3 linked regions of the Homo sapiens genome follow. The protein of the gene in region 3 purifies or fractionates together with the protein of the main gene of each other region. This does not show direct contact. Each region holds a gene or a part of one and is shown on either strand. Other genes may lie near its edges.

Region 1 (6,462 bases), on a different chromosome or scaffold from region 3:
CACTTCACATGTAAAAACACATATAGACTGAAAGTGAACAGATGGAAAAAAATATTCCGTGCAAATTTAAACCAAAAATGTGCAGGAGTAGCTATACTTATTCATAATAGACTAAGTCAGAAAACATAAAAAGGGACAAAGAAGATCATTACATAATGAAAAAGGGATCAATTCAGCAAAAGGATGTAACAATTTTAAATATATATGCACCCAATACCAAAGTACTCACATGTATAAACAAACACTATTAGAGCTAAAGAGAGAGGCAGATCCTAATACAAAAAAAAGCAGGGGATTTTAATGCCTCACTTTCAGTATTGGGCAGATCATCTAGAAAGAAACATCAGACTTAATCTGCATTATAGACCAAATGGACCTAACAGACATTTACAGACCCTTTCTTCCAACAGCTGCAGAATATACATTCTTCTCATCAGCACATGGACCATTCTGCAGCATAGACCATATGTTAGACCACAAAACAAGTCTCAATAAATTTTTAAAAATCTAAATCATATCAAGTACCTTCTCAGACCACAATGGAAGAAAAGTAGAAATCAATAACGAGAAACTTTGGAAACTACAAATCCATGGAAATCTAACAACTGGCCAGGCATAGTGGCCCATGCCTGTAATCCCAACACTTTGGGAGGCCGAGGAAGTCAGGAGTTCGGGACCAGCCTGGCCAACATGGTGAAACCCCACCTCCACTAAAAATACAAAAATTAGCCAGGCGTGGTGGTGTGCCTGTAATCCCAGCTACTCAGGAGGCTGAGGTGGGAGAATTGCTTGAACCTGGGAGGCAGAGGCTGCAGTGAGCCAAGATCACATCACTGCACTCCAGCCTCAGCAACAGAGCAAGACCGCATCTCAAAGAAAAAAAAAAAAATCTAACAACCAATGTGGACTACATACAAACGTACATGTGGATGTGGACAACGAACCACATGGCTAAGCCATAAAAAAAACAATAAAACACGAAACTCAGGCAAAAAACTCCACCATCAGAGTAGAATGCTGTAACTTCCATTCAGCCCTTCAATCCCACCTTCATTGGCTGGACTGGTTTTCACAGCATCTCTCTTGCCTGAGACATCATGGCATCTCTAAGTGTATCCAAGACCTTCTGGTAGGTCTCCAGAACGTCCTGGGCAGTGGGTCTTTCTGAGGGAGTCTGGCTCTTGCATGCTTTGTGAATATCAAACAAATGGAATCGGACCATATCACTCCCTTCAATGTGCCCCAGAAGGAAACTGGAGATGTCTGGGATCTTCCAAATGTCAATCTTCTCATCATATGAGGGCATGAGATCATCGTGGAAAGGCACGTCCTCTCCATAGGGCCACAGTTGCTCTGGAGCCACGAAATCCCCATGCAGCTCCCTGTGGCCGCACTTCACCAGCATCCCGGAGCTGTGGTTCACCAGGGGTAAGGCGTCCAAGTCATTTGCCAAAATGCTGAAGTTGCTTGTTAGCAGATACTGGGACAGTGTCTTCGGCAGGTCGTTGGAGTCGCACATGACCCGTGTGCCCACAGGGCTGTGGTGCAGGTAATTAATGATGCTGACATAGTCCATGGCCAGCTCCAGCCTGTGCTGCCACGTGTTCACATTTTGGTACTTTGAAAGGTTTAGTGTTTCTTCCAGGTTACTCAAGGAACCTAGAGGGTGATATTCAGTAAGCATAGTGTTGTCATCCTCACAATAGCCAAGCAGCGTGACAACATGTGTGCCTTGGAGAGATTTCAGCATCTGCAGTCCATGGAGGAAATCATCTTTCATCTCCAGGCTGGTGAGCTGTGAGAGTGCAACTTTGTGCTCCTTCCACTCAGACAGAAAGACCTGCAACAAAGCCATAGAGAGCATCAGGCCTGAACTCTCACCTAATTTAGTGACCAAAGAACAACAAATATCTTTTAAGTGGCAGGTGTTCTGCAGAAGATACAGAAATTAACAAGGTGCAGACCCCATCGTAGAGTTGCTCTCCGTCTAGTTATGAAGAGAGACCGATGAGCAAACACAGCATTCAGCAAGGCAAGTGCCACATTAGTGGGTGGAACCTCAGGGCAGGAAGCGATTGCCTCTGGGCAGGACACTGAGAGCTGCTGCAGAGGGTGCTGGAAGGCTTTGGGAAGCTGGTCTCATAGAACGAGGGGGACCTGCAGATTCAATGTAGGGCAGGGGAGTGCTAGCTCAGGAGGGAAGACTCCATATAACTGCATGGCAGGGAGGAGTGGCAAGTAGACTGCCAGTTCCAATGGACCACCACACAGTGGGTGGGGAGGAAGAGGAGGCAGGGGAGTGGACTGGAAAAGTGGGTAAGTGTGGAGACCCCGAAAAGCCTACATGAGGGCGTAGAGCCCTGCCCATCACGTGTAACAATGTTACTCATTAATTTTAAAAGGTGGCATAGTAAATCATAAATAGGAACATTTATATGTAAGGAAAACATTTTTGCATGTTCTGTGGTTTGGTGTTACTTCAGCTGTAAAGGCAGGAGCTGAAATGCTACATAAACACTAGACCTTCTCATAGAGTCCACAGCTAATAGAAGAGCAAGTTCACATTTCTGCCTTGGATTTTCACCTTTCATTTGCTTGCAGGAAGCACTGTAATTAAAGGAAGAACCTCTGATCTTTTGCTTAAATCCCAAGAGAAGGCAGAAGATTACAAAAGAGAAAGCAGGCTCAGGACTCAGGAGATTCCTGCCCCAGGCTCATTCTGCAAGCAGTGTGCCATGTCATTGTTCAAATAAAGGTTATGGTTTCCAAAGCAGTTTTTTGCATTATTTATCAAGAGACTCTAACATCTAAATCTAAGGCAATAATCGGAAATAGGTAAGAAGCTCCAGGAATAAAAATCTGACATTATTTATAAAAGCATACACTGAAACTTATCAAAAGATGGGAGCAGCATGATCAACATAGTGAGAACCCATCTCTACAAAACATTTTTTAGAAACTAGCAGGGTGGGCCAGGCGTGGTGGCTCACACCTGTAATTCCAACACTTTGGGAGGCCAAGGCGGGTGGATCACCTGAGGTCAGGAATTCAAGACCAGCCTGACCAACATGGAGAAACCCTGACTCTACTAAAAATACAAAATTAGCCAGGCGTGGTGGTGCATGCCTGTAATCCCAGCTACCTGGGAGGCTGAGGCAGGAGAATCACTTGAACCCGGGAGGCAGAGGTTGCCGTAAGCCAAGATCACGCCACTGTGCTCCAGCCTGGGCAACAAGAGTGAAACTCTGTCTCAAAAAAAAAAAAAAAGAAAGAAATTAAGAAACAAGCAGGGTGTAATGGAGCGTACATGTACCCCCAGCTACTCAGGGGAGGCTGAGGTGGGAGGATCATTCAATATATATATATATCATGCGGTCACCAAAATGTATATATTTATACAGTTATAACAGATAAAAGTAATGGTACGGCTGGGTGCGGTGGCTCATACCTATAATCCCAGCACTTTTGGAAGCCAAGGCAGGCAGATCACCTGAGGTCAGGAGTTGGAGACCAGCCTAGCCAACATGACGAAACCTAAAACCTAAAACCTCTACTAAAAATACAAAATTAGCCGGGCATGGTGGTGCATGCCTGTAATCCCAGCTACTCAGGAGGCTGAGGCAGAAGAGTAGCTTGAACCCCAGGAGGTGGAGGTTGCAGAGAGCCAAGATCACACCATTGCACTCCAGCCTGGGTGAACAAGAGTGAAACTCCATCTCAAAAAAAAAAAAAGCAATGTTACAAATGAGAAGTATACAAAACCATTTGTATAATATTGTTCCAACTGCATAAAACGAGACAAATTTAAATTACAGCACATGGAAATCAAAGGAAATATGCTAATGCCTTAGTTGTCTTTATGTGGTAAGATTCTGGGTGATTTTTTTTTCCTTCATATCTTTTGGTATTTTCCAAGATGAACATATATTACTTTTACAACTTAAATTTTTTAACTCAAAAATATATAAAATTTCAGAAAAACTAACATTGGGAATTTAAAAAAAAAAAAAGAAAAAGAAATATTATATAAAATGGAGTTAGACCCAAGGACCATGAAGATCTTTTCTGGATCTAAGAAGGGAGGTTCATTATGGAAAAACCCAGATAACTTTGATTGGCTCATAACATTCAAATGAAAACTCTTTCAAGACTCTCTAATCCTCATATTTGAGAAATTTCACTAAGGATAATAACTTCTATTAAAAAGCTGTTTTTGGGCCGGACGCGGTGGCTCACGCCTGTAATCCCAGCACTTTGGGAGCCGAGGCAAGAGGATCACAAGGTCAGGAGATCGAGACCAGCCTGGCAACATGGTGAAACCCCATCTCTACTAAAAATACAAAATAATTAGCTGGGCGTGGTGGCGCGCGCCTGCAGTCCCAGCTACTCAGGAGGCTGAGGCAGGAGAATTGCTTGAACCCAGGAGGCAGAGGCTGAAGTGAGCCAAGATCACACCACTGCACACCAGCCTGGTTAGAGACTTCGTCTCAAAAAAAAAAAAAAAAAAAAAAAAGCTGTTTTTCACTCTGGCTGCTACATGCACTAAAAATTTCCTAATTTTTAAGGACTAGATAAGACCACATTCTAAAAGTTCAAGATTTTTTTAAATTTTCATATTGAACACACGCTCTCCATAGATTTGCATCCCACTGAATCTGATAATTGGCTCTAATACGAACAACTGAGGTTTTGTTCAGATCCATGGCTTCCTTACGCCCACCTCTGCATGGTCACCACCAGAACTGGCAATGGCTTTGGTTTTCTAGGCCCATTTTTCACCTAAAAACGATGCTGGCTTTTGGGAAGCTGCTGCTACACATTCAACAATAAGTGGGGGGCCGGCCGCAGTGGCTCATGCCTGTAATCCCAGCACTTCAAGAGGCCGAGGCGGGTGGATCACGAGGTCAGGAGATCAAGACCATCCTGGCTAACATGGTGAAATCCCATCTCTACTAAAAATACAAAAAATTAGCCGGGCATGGTGGCAGGTGCCTGTAGTCCCAGCTACTCAGGAGGCTGAGGCAGGAGAATGGCAGAATGGCATGAACCGTGGAGGCGGAGCTTGCAGTTAGCCGAGATCAGGCCACTGCACTCCAGCCTGGGCAACAGAGCGAGACTCCGTAACAACAACAACAAAAAAAACAGTAAGTTGGGGAGGCTCAGCCACAGGCCCCAGGGCTCCTGATCCCTCATTTGTGTCTCATTCATTTTTGTTTCAGATAAATGAAGATTATTAAATATTATTATGAAATACTATTAGTCTTTGAGATCACACACAAATATTTGAATCCTCCAATATAAAAAATTTGCTAGTCATGGACTGTTTAAGAATCATTTCTCACAACCTCTAATTTAGTTGCTTTTAATCATTTTCTAAAAGACTTTTATTTGGAAAGAACAGTTAAAATACTTTACTTTTTTATTATAAAATTAATCGTGAACACTTTTCTTGGTAAAAACTCAAATACAGAGGATAGGCAGGATGTCTCCCTGCCCCCAGTTTTACTTCCCGACCCAAAGGAAACCTGGTAACTGGCTGTCATCCTCCCAGAAGTTTTTCTATGCCTTTATTTATTAATGTACACTTGTAAAACAGCATTTGGGTTTGCTGTTATACTAATGGCGTTATAACATACATACATTGCAGCTCTTTTTTCATTTAACTGAGCCTCAGAAATCCTTTCCATATATACATGTAGATCTAGGCCATTCTTTTTAAAGCTGAGTAATGTTTCATAGTGTGGGCATAATACCTACACTTGTGTATTTCCAGTAAGCTTTTACAGATACTACTACCTTTTTTCTTTAAAATTAAAGTATAATATAATAAAAATACCAGGAATTTGGAATTGATGCTGTCAAAATAGACTGGATTCTTTCTTAAGATTATTATGTAGCTATAATTTTGTAAAGACCTTTAATAAGATCTTATATGATCTATTTCTAAAGACCTGGACATTTAAGTTAGTCCCTTTTCTAATGACAATGCTACAGTGTATAGCCTTATATTTACATGTCTATGTACATGCACAAATATTTTATAAGCTAGGTAGGCAGACAGAATTTACCAAATATCTATTGCCATCATTACCCTCCAAAGTCTGTGCTAGCATGCACTTTCACCAGCAGCGCATGATAGAATCTTAGGAATACACCCTTAGTCACACCAGATTATTACCACTGTTTGTAATTTGTGCCAATCAATGGATGAAAATACCTTACTCTTCTAATTTGTATTTCCCTGATTACTAATAAGGCTAGGCATTTGTCATCTTTTTAGGCATTTCTGTATTTCTGCTGTCAAAAGTCTGTTCACTGTCCTTTATCCAATTTTCTATAGGGTTGTCTGCCTTGTGCTTATTAATTACTGGGAGCTCTTTATATATACTTGACCCTTGAACAACACGGGTTTGAACTGCGCAGTTCCACTTACACACAGATTTTCTTCTGCCTTTACCACCC
Region 2 (2,614 bases), on a different chromosome or scaffold from region 3:
CATACCCTGATGCTCACCTGGGCACAGCTTTACCCAAGCAGCCCCATCCATCCGTGGTTACACAGAGCCAAATGCATGAGCGTGGGTGCACATGCACACACACAGGTACACAGCCACTGGCAGGCACAGTGGGGGAGCCTCGCCTACTGGGGAAGTACCAGCGTGCAGGCACACTAGTCACAGACACAAAGGCATCCCTTGGAGGCAGATGAAGACAGGCTGTGAGCTCCCCATTCCTGAGCCCTGAAGGGCACCCCATACTCAGCTCTCACCCAAGCCAGGCTCTGCTTGCTCTCTGGCAGCTGCAATGGAGGGGCAGCTGGCCACTGGGGTCACAGAGCAGGACGTGGAGGATCTCTAACTCCCCTCCTCCCCCAACCCCAGGGTACCTGCCATGTTCCTTCCATTCTTTGTCCTGGGGAGGGGAGGCTCCTTCCCACTCCCAGCCTATCTGTACAGCCATCCCCCCACCGCCCCCAACCAAGGCAGAACAAACAAATACACAACCCAAATCCAGGTGAAACAAGTAAATCATTGGCTTTATTCTGGGTCCTGGAAGCTCCACTGTGAGTCTGAAAAAAAGACACAACAGGGGTGGCAGCCCTGGGGGCTGGTGCAGAAAATAGTCCCTGGCTCCTCTGGCCCTGGGAGCCTAAAGGGCAGTGAGGAGAAGGCTTAGCAAGAGGCCTGGAGCAGGGGAAGTCAGGTCCCTCAGGAACCCCTCCTCCCCCAGAGGAAGGAGGAAGAGGGCTGGAGAGTCTGCTGGAGAGTCTGCTCAGTTCCTCAGCAACTGCACTGCAGGAGGGTGCAGGCCATGGGTTACTCCTTGCCCTTCTCAGGGGCAGTGGGCTCCCAGAGCCACTTGGTAGTCCCCAGGGGCTCAGTCCCAGGGTCCAGCCGTGACTCCCCTAAGGGCCCCTCGCCCTCCAAGTCCAGCTCCTCAAAAGAGGAGCCGCTGGCACCTGACTCGCTGTAGCTGTGCTCGCTGCGGGTGTCACCGTCATCCCAGCCACGGCTGCTCGCCCCAGGTGACAGTGTGGCAGCTGAAGTCTCCCGGCTGCCAGGGCTCACTTCCAAGCTTACAGAACTCGTGTCACTCATTGTGTCAGCTCCTATGACCAGGAAAAGGGAGCACAGGTTAGCTAGGACCACCCCACCCCCTCCTCCAGGGAGAGGCAACTCAGCACGCAGTGCACTCATGAATAATGCAGCCTCCCGGGCTCAGGGGGCTTGCTCCAGCTGCCCTCTGCCCTCTACCCTGACTGGGGCTGCACAGACAGGGCAGAGGGAAAGAGCTGGGAGGAAGGGAGGGAGGGAAGGAGGGAGGGAGGGAGAGAGGGTGGGAGGAGGCAGCTGTGCACTCTTCTCCCCACTCTAAATTAGCCTCAGCTCCCTGCACTTCCACAAAGCCTGCTGCCCTCCCCCCACATTTATTAAGGGCCACTCAGCCCTGAGGTGAGGAGCTGAGGTAGAACAAAGAGACACAAGTAGTGTCCTCTCCACCTTCCCCCACCCCCACTTCAAGCTTGGAAAGAGATGTGTCCAGGGCCAGCTACAGAACATCACCCACAGGGCACGAGGACTGCAGAATGCAGCAGGAGGCCCCTCTGCAGCCCTCCCCCGTGCAGGGCTCCCAGGAGCAGCATCCAGGGAGTCAGCAGGCCCCTGCCTCTGGTACACACCAAGTCCCAGTTGAGGAGGGAGCTGAAGTACGAGGAGGATGGAGAAGGCCTGAGAAATACTCAACCAGCTGCAAGGAGGAGGGTGCTGGGATGAAACATGTTAAGGGTTTTCTCTCCCTATGCCTGGGTCGACCCTGAGAAACCCTTACCCACCCCACCCCCAATGACTGGTGCTTCCTGAGCCACAAGATAGCAAAAGGGGATGATGAGAGCACTCTGCTGGTGGTTGGGGTGCCCCAAACCAGTGCTGAGCCAGGTTGATGGCCCAAACTCCTTCTAACCTGCTCCTTCCACCCCCAATACATCCTCCAAGCAAGCAGCCCCTTCATCTGCCCTGTCCAGGAGCAACCCCTGGGTTCATCTCCCTGGATCAGAGGCACTGAATGCAGGCTGGGGTGGCAAGGAGGAACACATGGCTCAGGCTCGCTGTGTGCAGGAATCCAGACTGGGAGAAAGTGGATCTGCTACCCTTCCTGTATGATGGGGAGAGGGTCAGCTGTCAAACATCACAGAAGGTGAGGGGTTAGCCAGCTTCCCCAGCCACTGTCTCCATGGTGTTGGAGCCAAGCCAGGTGCAGCTGGGGTCTGCTTGGCGCCTGGACTCAGCCTGGGGCTTTCCTTGAGCCTCAAATGGGGCCTAGGTTGGGGGTGGGAGAATTAGGAGAGGGGGGAATTTGGGGTCTCTCCCTACCCCCACCACCCACTCAGCCCCCAGAATATGCCCTCTGGGCGCTACTGGCAGAGGTGAGGTGAGCCCTAGAAGCCCAGGCTGCTGGCCCAGGGCCCTCCTCTTGCTGAGGCCCCAGGTGTGGCTCCCAGGACAGAAGCCTGTGAATGAGGTGGTCAGGGAGCTGGGGGAGCTTTAAGTTTTGGGTAGTTTCTTCTGACCAGGGGACAGGATGCCAGGCCCTCACTGCTCCTTAAATAATGAT
Region 3 (7,042 bases):
CAACAGACAGACAGCCACGGCGATGAAGTGGATCACTCTGTATCTTGCATGAAGAATAAACCATGACAGAGCCATCAACACAGGAATCCCAAAGCAATCCAAAAGCTGCATGGAAAGAGAATCAACAGTTTAAAACATATCTCTCATTAGCTAAAAGATGGGTAATTAAGAAATAATAGGAGTCAGTATTTATAATAGGAGTCAGTATTTATTGAGCATTTATTATTGCCAGCCCTGTACTAAGAGCTTTACCTGGATTCACTCATTTAATCCTCACAATTCCATGAGACTGAAATTACAATCCAATTTTATACATGAGAAAATGAAGATACAGAGAGGTGAAATGAGTTGCCAAAAACACATAGTTAAAAATGGGATGACAGCTGGGCACGGTGGCTCACGCCTGTAATCTTAGCACTTTGGGAGGCTGTGGCGGGCAGACTGCTTGAGTCCAGGAGTTCGATATCAGCCTGGGCAACATGGTGAAACCCTGTCTGTACAAAAAAAAAAAAAAACAACAACAAAAAAAAACCTTGGGTGTGGTGGTGCACTCCTGTAGTCCCAGCTACTTGGGAGGCTAAGGTGAGAGGATCACTTGAGCCCGGAGTTCAAGGATGCAGTGAGCTGTGATGGTGCCACTGCACTCTAGGCTGTACAACCCAGAGAGACCCTGTCTCAAAATAAATGAATAGATAATAAAATACAATGGAAGAGTCAGTTGCTGTATACAAGAATTCTGCTGAGGGCCTGTGCACTTTACCTCTATGCTCCCACCTGTGTATATCTTTTCTTTTATTTTATTATTATTATTTTTTTTTTGAGATGGAGTCTCGCTCTGTTGCCCAAGCTGGAGCGCAGTGGTGCAATCTCGGCTCACTGCAACCTCTGCCTCTCGGGTTTAAGCAATTCTTCCTGCCTCAGCCTCCCAAGGAGCTGGGATTACAGCCATCTGCCACCATGCCCAGCTAATTTTTGTATCTTTTAGTAGAGATGGGGTTTTGTCATGTTGGCAAGGCTGGTCTCGAACTCCTGATGTCAGGTGATCTGTCTGCCTCGGCCTCCCAAAGTGCTGGGATTACAGGCGTGAGCCACCACGCCTGGCCCTGTGTATATCTTTAAGTTCAGTAGACAAACATTCCTTCCTACCTGCAACCATTTACTCAGTCAACAAATATTTGTTAAACACCTTGCATGTGTGAGACACTGTGAAAGGAGCTAGGAATAGCGGTGAACAGGACAGAGCAAGCTGTGTCCTTAGGAGCACACAAAGCTAGAAAGGACATGGAATAAATAATCACACCACCAGATATTTCACTGGAATCGGGCTAAGCGCTACAAAGAAGCATGGGTTACTGTGAGAGAACAGACACCATCTCCCTGACAAAGCGTCCAACCCCACCATGTGAGACACACTCGTGCTCATGGCAAATACTCTTGCTCATCCTCCTCACATGCTCCCCCTCACCTGTTGATACTGGGTCCAGAAAACACTAGCTATACACCTGATATTGCTCATCTGGAAGGCAGAGGGATTAAGTGTGCCAAAATTACAGCAGGTCCAAAATTGTTTGCAAGATAAAAGATAAAAAAGAGAGTGCACTCACTCAATTCTTAAATTCACAAATTTAATGTGCATTCAAGGATAAAATATATTCAAGAGATTCTTGATGCATTCCAATGTATTTCTTTCAAGGAAGAAATATATTCCTTATACCAGTAATATTCCCGAAACTGCTGTTTTATTGCTCACCCTTTTGTTGTTTCAAACCTTGTCCCTGATTCTCTCTGTATCTGTTTGGTCTTGAACAAGACAGGCCCCTAAATCTCCAACAGCCCATTCGATCCTGTCCACAGTTGTTTACTGATTGCCTTTCACTGCAGTAGCATCAGTGGAGTCCAACGCATCATGTGTAGGAATGGGCATCTTGCCTTGTTATTTATTCCAGCTGCAGAACTCTAATCTCCTAAGTGCTTTATTGAGCCTGCCTGAATAACAAAACATTAAACGATGCAAATGATAATACCCTGTCCCTGAAGACACCAGCAGAATCCAGCCATAACGGCTTAACAAAATCTCAACTACATTCCTTAAACAAAAAAAGTAGAAAAAGACATTCTAAGAACTACCACAGAAGAGTCCCTTGTGTCTTAAAATCAAACTTAAATTTGCTCTATCTTTAACAACTTTTGTTGGGCAATGAGGGAGATGCCTATGTCATGATCAGAGCTCCAGAAACCTCAGGCCCCGGCCCCACGCTGACCAGCTAGCTGTGTGGCCCCAGCCAGTCACTCTCCAAGTCAAAATATAAAATAAAAAGATCAGACGAAATGATCACACAGTTTCCCTCCGACTCTAACATTCCATGACTTCTCATCTGATATCTATCACCTTTAGTCATGTGAACCTTCTTTTCAAAATGTATTCTTGGTGGCCGGGAGTGGTGGCTCATGCCTGTAATCCCAGCACTATGAGAGGCCAAGGCCGGAGGATCACTTGAGGTCAGGAGTTCGAGACCAGCCTGGCCAACATGGCAAAACCTCGTATCTACTCAAAATACAAAAAAAAAAAAAAAAAAAAAAATCAGCTGGGCGCATGCCTGTAATCCCAGCTACTCAGGAGGCCAAGGCTGCAGTGAACCAAGATTATCCCACTTCACTCCAGCTCGGTGACAGAATGAGACTCCACCTCAAAAAAAAAAAAAAAAAAAAAATTAGCCAAGTGTGGTGGCGCGTGCCTGTAATCCCAGCTGCTCAGGAGGCTAAGGCAGGAGAATCACTTGAACCTGGGAGGCGGAGGCTGCAGTGAGCCAAGATCATGCCATTGTACTCCAGCCTGGGTGACAGAGCAAGACTCCTTCTCAGAAAAAAAAAAAGTATTCTTGGTGATGGATGTCTTCTCTGTTTCAGTTCGAAGAGTATCAATTTTATTTTTAAAAATTATTGTATAGTCACAGTAAGCAGAGTACTAAGACAGACCCTGCGACATGGGTATAAAAACAAGTTAGATCATATTAGAGGTACAATAGAGTATAGAAGAGAAAATGAAAATTGAATTAACCTTTGACAATGAGGGGAGCAGGCTTCAAAAAGGACTGCATTCTAGGAAGAACAGAGCAGCACAGGGGAGAAGGAGCAGGCCATGAGTGGGAAATGGGTTGATGTGGCAGTAAAGTGGGAAGGGACATGAGCAGCAACCTGGGCCACATCATCATCTTCACGTGAACTATCCCATGACTGTTGGTAATTACAGAACCTTCTAAGGAATCCTTAAGAAGAAGGTTCAAAGACCACCTAATCCAGATTTCCATCCTTTTGGACTACCCAGGCCAGAGATTTACTCAGTTGGAGAACCAGCTTGAATCATTCCTATCACAGCTGTCGCTGCTGCTGGAGAAAACATTACCTTGTTAGATGCCTTTTTTATAATATATTCTTTGCTAGGACCGTAAGTGCATGACTTTTGGCAACCAAATGCTTAGGTTTTTCTAAGAGGCTAGCGTGAAAGAAATTGTTTTCAATTTCTTTGAAATTGAAAGAAGGCATGAACTTCAGTCGCAACTATCCAACTGTAAGTGTTCTGTTTAACTGTGTTTAGGCCTTGCACCAATTCAAAACTTTTTATCATTAGTTAGAGATCAAAGTTCCTGGGAATTGTAATCAAGTAATTAAAATGTAGGTGAGATTATGAGAGTAGATGTGACAAGAAAATACCATTTTCTACATACTTATGTATACTTCATTAACCAACGCTAAAAGTACACTTACTCCTATTAGTGATAAACTTCATTCTCTAGGTAACTGCTGGGTTTAATTTTTACGAAACTTTAGGTTCTTTTTGTGCCTCCTATAGTGTCTGTCTTAATAAATCATTTCCTATCTCAGCTTTTTAACCCATACTGGTCAAAATCCAAGAGGTTTCCTGAGAACAATGCTTAGCACAATGTTACAGAAAAGAAAGTAGTTAATATAATGGTAGTAACATTTAATGTAGGTTCACACTGGAAAAATACTGAGTTCTCATCAATCCTTATATTTTCTATGCGAAATAAGTCTAATTTCAATTTTTCCAGTCCCTAAAATTTGGAGTCAAGTAAGAACATCTCTGTATTTTGTATAGTGAGAAAGGGACATATCAAAAAGTTATAAACTTCAAATCCCACATCTGATACACACTTTTTTTTATTATTTAAAAAAATGAAAAAAAAGTTATAAACAAACTGTGACATCTAAACCTGGCATTTGAGTCTATCTCACTTTCACCTCCACTTATAAAACATTTTGTAGTCAGTAATGGTGAGTCAGTGTTAGGAAACATCCCATAGTTTGCTAACATTAAGACAACTGAAATCAGTTGTCTTCAACTTTACAAAGTTGAAAACCTCTGCAATGTAGGAATATTTTTCTTTCAATGCAGCAAGAATAAACCTAACAAAGAAATAGGGATGGGAGTTTTAACTCTGGCTACCACCTCTCCCAAAAATGTCTACTGGGTTTCTTCCAATGGTTTCTTTGTCATGAATATCTACTATGCTTGCAAAGCTTCAACTTTCCTATAGAACAAAGGTATACTTTCATATGCCATGTTTGAGCAGCATATAAAACAGAACACGTGTCAACACCACAGCATCAACTGCCAACTAAATATTTATGCTTATTTGGTAGGAACTGTTCTAATCTGCCATAGCAGTTTGGGGGCAGCTTAAGTTGTATACATTTTCACTAATTCTAGGAAACATTACTCATTAGAGCATATGCTCTACTAGAAAACAGCATCCACCTGTGTTTAGGTTTTCTTCAAGTGAATAGATTTTCAATAAAATTAGGTCAACACATATGACTTCGTGTTCTTCTTTTGAAGCTATAAAATCCAAAGTGGTCAGAGGGCTCCCTCTTACCTGGACACTGGTTAGAGTTGTGTACTGGTAGGCTCTGACGATCACATAATTAGCTTCCACATCTGCTAGTCCCAGCAGGATGTACTTCCACCATTTTCTTTTCAAGATTACTAAAAGGTTATCACTGCCTGGTTGAAAGAAATATGGGTTAGTACATGTTACTTGCAAATGATACCATACATGTTGATTTGAAGATAAAAGAGTAGAAGCAAGAGTTTCTTGTTTTTTTTTCTTTTTTCTTCTTCTTCTTTTTGAGATAGGGTCTCATTCTGTTGCCCAGGTTGGAGTGCAGTGGCACAATCTCGGCTCACTGCAACCTCTGCCTCCTGGGTTCAAGCCATCCTCCCACCTCAGCCTCCTGAGTAGCTGGGACCACAGGCGTACGCCACCATACCCACCTAATTATTTTTGTATTTTTAGCAGAGATGGGGGTCTCACCATGTTGCCCAGGCTGGTCTTGAACTCCTGAGCTCAAGTGATCTGCCTGCCTCAGCTTCCCAAAGTGCTGGGATTTCAGGCGTGAGCTACCACGCCTGGCTATTGTGTATTTCTAATGTGGCCCCCTCCTAGTTTCCATTCTTCATAACCCAAACTCCTGCAACAGCTCACCAGAGTTAGATTTTTTTCTAGCATGAAACCCTAGTTAAAGTATCATCAGAGACCAAGTGTTCAATAAAAGCACCAGAATGAAAGTAAGAGAAAAGTGGTTAAATTCCCTTTCCCAAATGGGCACAGTGGTGTGCACCTGTAATCCCAGCTACTCAGGAGGTTGAGGTGAGGGCAGAGGACAGCTGGAGCCCAGGATTTCAAGACCAGCTGGGCTTACATAATGAGACTCCACCTCTTTAAGAAAAAAAAGAGGGAGGGCAGGGCGGGAGAAGAGCATTAAGGAAAAGAGCTAATACATGCTGGACTTAATACTTAGGTGATGGGTTGATAGCTGCAGCAAACCACCATGGCACGTTTATCTATGTAACAAACCTGCACATTCTGCACATGTATGCTGGAACTTAAAAAAATAAAATAGTTTTTTTTTAAAATCCCTTTCCTATCATAACAGAAACAAAATTTCTGGATATGAGCTTGTATGTCGCCACTTCTGACAAGCCACGGACTATCCTAGGAAATGAAATGTTTTCCTAGAAATTAATTGGTTATTTAACTTCTATTCATGGGCTTCTTCAAAGAAAAGTCTGCAGGTGATCATTCTTTTGGAAGAGGTGTGCTTTCAAGTGAAAATTAAGTCCTCGATAAGCTTGAGAAAAGGCTTAGTGCACACTGAAGAAACACCTTTTATTCCTCCAAATTATATGTATTCAAATTAATTGGATTCACTACTTTGGAGAATCTGTCATCACAGGAGATGCAGAGTTGGCACATATATGAGAAGGTTTTATGGCAAGATAACTCACAAATAAATAAAAGTAGTGAGAATCATAACCAAATAATTATCAGTAAAATCCAGTTAGCAGGAACATCTTGAAAACACAGAATTAGGCCGGGTGCGGTGGCTCACACCTGTAATCCCAGCACATTGGGAGGCTGAGGTGGGCAGATCACCTGAGGTCAGGAGTTCGAGACCAGCCTGGTCAACATGGAGAAACCCCATCTCTATTAAAAATACAAAAATTAGCTGGGCGTGGTGGCAGGTGCCTGTAATTCCAGCTACTAGGGAGGCTGAGGCAAGAAAATCGCTTGAACCCAGGAGGCAGAGGTTGCACTGAGCCGAGATTGTGCCATTGACCTGAAATCGTGCCACTGCATTCCAGCCTGGGCAACAAGAGCGAAACTCCGTCTCAGAAGAAAAACAAAAAACAAAACAAAAACACAGAATTAGTCTTCCTCAGCATCAAATGGCATAGGAAGCACCTAACAACCATCCCTTAGGGAGACTAACTGCACTGATACATTTGGGAGTCTCACCAAATTCCTGAAGGCCAATGCTTCCACAAAGAGCAAAGTCCAGGGTTATTAACCATGTACAGTTCCACTCCCAACTCTTCTTTTTTTTCCTTTGGAGACAGGGTCTTGGTCTGTCATTTGGGCTTGACAGCAGTGGTGTGATCTTGGCTCACTGCAACCTCAGCCTCTTGGGATCAAGCCATCCTCCACCTCAGCCTCCCAAGTAGCTGGGACTACAGGGACAT

What was found.
Region 1: the proteins of SLC35F2 (region 3) and POMK purify together in Homo sapiens (affinity purification with mass spectrometry; 4 studies listed by BioGRID and IntAct, with this or other methods). This does not show direct contact.
Region 2: the proteins of SLC35F2 (region 3) and TEX264 purify together in Homo sapiens (affinity purification with mass spectrometry; 2 studies listed by BioGRID and IntAct, with this or other methods). This does not show direct contact.

What each region holds. Positions count from the first base shown.
Region 1 is NC_000008.11:43,117,485-43,123,946, reverse strand, and holds the end of POMK (protein O-mannose kinase), read right to left. Parts: intron 1,841-6,462; coding exon 1,070-1,840; 3' UTR 513-1,069; downstream 1-512. UniProt on the Homo sapiens protein: Protein O-mannose kinase that specifically mediates phosphorylation at the 6-position of an O-mannose of the trisaccharide (N-acetylgalactosamine (GalNAc)-beta-1,3-N-acetylglucosamine (GlcNAc)-beta-1,4-mannose) to generate phosphorylated O-mannosyl trisaccharide (N-acetylgalactosamine-beta-1,3-N-acetylglucosamine-beta-1,4-(phosphate-6-)mannose).
Region 2 is NC_000003.12:51,702,222-51,704,835, reverse strand, and holds the end of TEX264 (testis-expressed protein 264), read right to left. Parts: intron 1,113-2,614; coding exon 820-1,112; 3' UTR 513-819; downstream 1-512. UniProt on the Homo sapiens protein: Major reticulophagy (also called ER-phagy) receptor that acts independently of other candidate reticulophagy receptors to remodel subdomains of the endoplasmic reticulum into autophagosomes upon nutrient stress, which then fuse with lysosomes for endoplasmic reticulum turnover.
Region 3 is NC_000011.10:107,806,772-107,813,813, forward strand, and holds part of SLC35F2 (solute carrier family 35 member F2), read right to left. Parts: intron 5,024-7,042; coding exon 4,896-5,023; intron 106-4,895; coding exon 1-105.